Regions from separate parts of the Homo sapiens genome. Here region 1 is linked to region 2. A link means that fine-mapping ties the variant in region 2 to the expression of a gene that starts in the linked region. Tissue or cell type: whole blood. Region 2 holds a variant in brackets; the other region holds the start of a gene. All regions are shown on one strand. Distances are between the middles of the regions.

Region 1 (2,686 bases), 29 kb after region 2:
AGTTCTATGTGTTAGGAGCAATATAAGTTCATATTTCGATCTTATTCAATCCTCACAGCAGCTTGTGAGGCAGGCTGTGTTTTCTACAGTTCTGCAAAAGGGGAAACAAAGTACAGAGATGAAGGAAATTGCCCAAGGTCACACAGACTGCTAGACTCCTACGCTCGCACCAAAGTAACAGGGCATGTTCTTGAAAAGGCCCCCAAACCGAAAGGTGTCTCTGGTACAGTGGACCTGGTTTCACATTTTCCAGAATCAAAAACTCATCATAATGAAATTTCAACTAAATTTTAGAGCTGGAAAGGACCTAAATGTCAAAACCCACCCCGTGCCAGAGCTCCAGTGTGCTGGGTTGCCAGATTCTTGGAGTTGGGGAAATCCACACCTCATCCATTCATTCAACCACACACATATTTACCAAATACCTATTAAGATGGGGTGCCTTCTACTTCCTCTTTCCATTGCACTCTATTGAACAGTCTTTTCCCAGCAAAACTCAACTTAAGTCCCATCCATCTTATCCCAGGACACGACACGATTCGTTTTTCCGCGCCAACTATCCATAGCCTCCCTTTTATTTGGCAATCATCACAGCAGTACGGTGTTGCTGGCTGGGGTTCGCAAGTTTGCGACCACTGTCCCTGCAATCACGGACTGACACATCTGCCAGGGACACCCCGCAGTAGCCCCGCAAGCTCAGCGCGGTAAAGACCACGCTGGCCTCTCCGCCGAGCAACGAGCGAGCCGCCGCCCGCCCTCCTCCGCTCCCTGCCGGCGGCCAAGCCGGAGCCCGCCCCGCGCCGCGAGAGGGAGCCGCACTCACCAGGCGCCCCGAGCTCTCCCGCGCCTTCTTCACCTTCCCGTAGGTGCCTTTGCCCAGGGTCTCCAGGAACTCGTAGCGGTGCCGCAGGTTGTGCTTGTGGTGGTGCCGCTTCACCGCCTGCTTCTTCATTAGGGGCTTGGGCGACTTGATCAGCCCTTCCGCCAGCGGCCGGGCTAGCTCTGCGGCCGAGGGAGTGGGGCCGGAGCGCCGCGCGAAAACCAGCGACTCCATGGCGAGCAGGAGGTGAGCAAGGGCGGCAGGGGAATCAGTAGGCTGTGCGGGGAGGGCTGAAGCGCGGGGCACAGGTCCCGCACCAGGACGGGGAGCCACAGCAGTACCAGAGCGCGCAGTAAAGCACAGCATTCCAAGTTGTTATAAACGCCCTGAGCCCGAGGCCCTGGACACGCCCCCCGGCGCCCATTGGCCTGCTCGACGGCGGCGCGTGACCACGGCCGTCCACATTGGCTCTCCGGGGCTCCAGGCCCCGCCTCCTCCCCCTCGGCGTGGCCGGGAAAGGTGTCAATGGAACCCGCCCACCAGGAATGGGGACTAGGGGATTCCAGCGAAGGCCGCCTGAGGCCCAGAAGCTTACTCTGAGGGCCCTTGGAGCTGCACTTGCCTCTGAGTGGCGCTTGGTCCTGCTTAATGCCCTGTTGTTTTATTGTACTCTGTTCTCAGTTGGCAAGGGGCGATCTGAGGGCACTAAAGGTCACCAAAGTATTTCTTCATCCTGAGTAATTTGCTTGTCCCAAGCCAAAATCTATAATTGCTTGACCACTTCATTGAGTCCATAAAGGAGAAAGGGAGCTGGGATGGAACAGAGGCAGAATCCAGCCTAGTGGGAGGGTTAGTGCAGAGCTGTCCTATGGTTCGAGTTCACTTGTCTTCAGTTAGATCAACCTTACTTGGATATTGGAATCCAATGGCCCTGGAAACTTCTTCCTTCTTCCTCAAAGAGGGCTTCTTAGGCGAATCGCTTGAGGTCCAGGAGTTCAAGACCAACCTAGCCAACATGACGAAATCCCATCTCCACTAAAGATACAAAATTAGCCGGGCGTGGTGGTGCGCGCTTGTAATCCCAGCTACTCTGGAGGCTGAGGCAGAAGAATCGCTTGAACCCAGGAGGCAGAGGTTTCAGTGAATCAAGATGGCGCCACTGCACTCCAGCCTGGGCAACAAAGTGAGGCTCCGTTTCAAAAAAAAAGAGGGCTTCTAAGGTTTAGTAGATTCCCTCAACCACTTAGTGGAATTTATTTAGGATGTGTCGGCTGGAGGTGGAGAGAACCCGAAGGGATACATATTTATTTAACATTTTTACATGCCGACTATCTAACCTGTGTCCCTAAGTCTGAAAATGGTTGCTCCACCCAAGGTTTTCTTGTGATTTTGGTGCCAGGAGCACTGGTGGTAGGTTATGAGGTTTGACTTGAGACGGAGTCTCCCTCTGTCGCCCAGGCTGGAGTGCAGTGGTGCGATCTCTGCTCACTGCAAGCTCCGCCTCCCGGGTTCACGCCATTCTCCTGCCTCAGCCTCTCCGAGTAGCTGGGACTACAGGCGCCCGCCACCACGCCCGGCTAATTTTTTGTATTTTTAGTAGAGACAGGGTTTCACCATGGTCTTGATCTCCTGACCTCGTGATCCGCCCGCCTCGGCCTCCCAAAGTACTGGGATTACAAGCGTGAGCCACTGCGCCCAGCTTGACTTAGTTTTTGAGGCCTGGAGTTGCTAGGTCCAGAATCTCCACTCTGAGTGCTCATTTACAGTGAAATGAGAATGGCCATAGGTTTTCCTTCTTGCTTTAAATGGCAGAAAGGGAACATTTCCCCTTTGGCCATCTTGATAACCTAATCCTGTGAAATGAGT
Region 2 (2,686 bases):
TGAAAAAGGCAAATGATGTTTCCTTATTATTAGTAAAACAGTTCTAGGCCTATAATCCAGCACTTTGGGAGGCCAGGTTGGGTGGATCACTTGAGTCCAGGAGTTCGAGACCAGCCTCGAGGGCAACATAGTAAGGCCCTGTCTCTACAAAAAGTACAAAAAATTAGCCAGGGGTGGTGGCACGTGCCTGTGGTCTCACCTGAGCCCAGGAAGTCAAGGCTGCAGTGAGCCATGATCACACCACGGCACTCCAGCCTGGGTGACAGAGCGAGACCCTGTCTCATAACACCACCACCACCAACAACAAACCCCACTTCTGACTGTGTGTACCTTCTGAAAAGATTTGGGGAGCCCCCAGGGGTTCCCCCAGGGGTTCCTGGACCACACTTGGAGAACCAGTGCTCTAGCACAATGCCAGAGACTTCAGTGGTGATCGGTATCTACTCCTTTGCCCCGCAAGTTAATTTGGGATGGGGGATGATGTGACACCACACACATAATTTAATGTAATTCCAAGCTGTTCTTTTTTCTGAGATGAGTGGTGCAGATGTGGGGAATCTTGGGGCTAGAGAGACTGCCCCAAAAGGCCTGGGTATGGGACTCAGTTGTGAGGTGGACCAAGCTGACTTAGCTGTGAAGGACAGAACTGCAGTTCTGTGTTCCTGGAGCCTTAAAGAGGCATCTAAAGAAAGTCAACCCTGCTAGGCGGAAAGACAGAATGGGTGAGCCTGGTGGGAGGCCAGGGTCAAGGAGCCAGCCGTGTGCTGCCCACCCCACCCCCAACCATGACTGGCGAGGGAGGGAGTTGACCAACTCCACTCCTCACCCCTACCTGGCATCTGTCTGCCTATTCTTTTTTTTCCCCCTTTTTGTGGAGAATGGGGTCTTGAGATATTGACCAGGCAGGTTTTGAACTCCTGGGCTCAAGCTACCTTCCGCCTCTGCCTCCCTAAGTGCTGGGATTACAGGTGTGAGCCACCACGCCCAGTCTGTCTGCCCATTCTGACCCTCGTGGGCATTTCCAGCAAGGGCTGGGACAGCAAGGCTAACATTGCTTATGAGGAATGACTTGGGCTCTCAAATATCTGCTCTACTAACTCTGCCCCTGGGCCCAGGCGTGCAGAGCCCCACAGCTGGGGGGCTTATTCCTTGACTGACCAATCCAGTGACGCAAGAGTGGGGACCGAAAACAGCCAGTTTTCAGTGTAGCCACGTCAACACAAGCAGTCCCATGACAACCAGCTCCAGTGGAACTGGGGCGTCTTACTACACACACCCTTGGCACACTCACCTC[T/C]GTGCTGTTTTTTTTTTTTTTCTTTTTGAGATGGAGTTTTTGCTCATGTTGCCTAGGGTGGAGGGCAATGGTGCGATCTCGGCTTACCTCAACCTCTGCCTCCCGGGTTCAAGCAATTCTCCTGCCTCAGCCTCTCGAGTAGCTGGGATTACAGGCATGTGCCTGGCTAATTTTGTATTTTTAGTAGAGACGGGGTTTCTCCGTGTTGGTCAGGCTGGTCTCGAACTCTCGACCTCAGGTGATCCGCCCGCCTTGGCCTCCCAAAGTGCTAGGATTATAGGCGTGAGCCACAGTGCCCAGCCACCTCTGTGCTGTTAACATCCATCCTGTAGGTGTTAGTTTATGGCCCCAACTTTATTATAAGTAAATTCCTTGAAGGAGGGGACGTGCCTCAATTGCTTCTGTATTTTCCATGGCACCTAGAACAATAGTAAGGTCTTAATAAATGTTGATGTGTTTATTAGGGAATGGGTTTTCACTTGATTTAACTATCAAGTTCCCCTTTATAAGGGGCTGGGGCCAGGAAAGCGGGTGGAGGCCCTTTATTAAACATTTATTGAGTACCTGTTCTCACTCCTTAGGTTTTCTCCAGTGATGTATTGCTTAAAAAGCATGTTCATGTGTTGTCTCATTTAATCCTTGCAGTAATGTGATGGGTGTGAGCTGACTGTGAAAGTGACTCTCTAAGTCATTGCAATGCACTCTGTGGGAAGAATGTGCTAGCCCAGCAAGGCTGTCTTTGTGATGTCCGATGTGTACGTGCGTGGGGAGGCGCTCCCAAAAGCTGCGCTGGGGCAGGGTGTCCTGAACGGCGTTACCAGATGTATCTTGACAAAGAGGTTGGCACCACCATGAAGACCAATTCAACCAGCTCTCCTAGCCCAGCTTCCATGCTCTTCAAGGAGACTTCCCACTGAACTTCCGAATACCCTTGTGTGAAACTGCCACAGGCAGTGAATGTGCTCATCAGCAAACCCAAGTATCTGGTTGGTTTGACAGGGGTTTTGTTATTCATTAGAAATGAATGAATTGGCATGTTGGCTGAATCCATTCCTCTCCTAGAGCTCAGTGAGTCTGCTCCTGAGCCTCCTAGCCTGTTGATAAGCAAGGTTTCTGAGCAGCAAAGTGAGGCTGCTCACTTTGGCAAACAGGTCTTCAGGTGAGCCCGGCCACCATGTGAGGCCCTGTTGGCAGGCCAGGCTCTCCCCAGGCCCCACCTGGCCTCACCAATGGCTCTTGGATTCACAGAGGACTGCACATTGGACTGGGAGACAGGGCAAGCCAGGGGTCCCTTAGCAGAGAAGGGATCCCTGCCAGTAACTAGCCTGCTGTGAGTATGAAGTTGCCACTTACCAAGGACCCTCCTGATGGACACAACAAAGGCGATGGGTG

What was found. PIP is the estimated chance that this variant, and not a neighbour inherited with it, causes the effect.
Region 1: NUAK2 starts here. The variant in region 2 is fine-mapped to the expression of NUAK2 in whole blood (TOPMed, PIP 0.99).

Annotation. Positions count from the first base shown.
Region 1 is chr1:205,320,575-205,323,260 of GRCh38, forward strand. It overlaps NUAK2 (NUAK family kinase 2), which reads right to left and starts at 1,171. Exons shown (of 7, transcript NM_030952.3): 1 at 824-1,171. The coding sequence starts at 1,054. RefSeq lists a silencer at 678-857.
Region 2 is chr1:205,291,541-205,294,226 of GRCh38, forward strand. No RefSeq gene overlaps it. Among named protein-coding and RNA genes, the nearest start is that of NUAK2, 29 kb to the right of the region's middle. RefSeq lists enhancers at 141-380, 2,377-2,686. The variant T/C (reference allele first, on the strand shown) is at 1,295.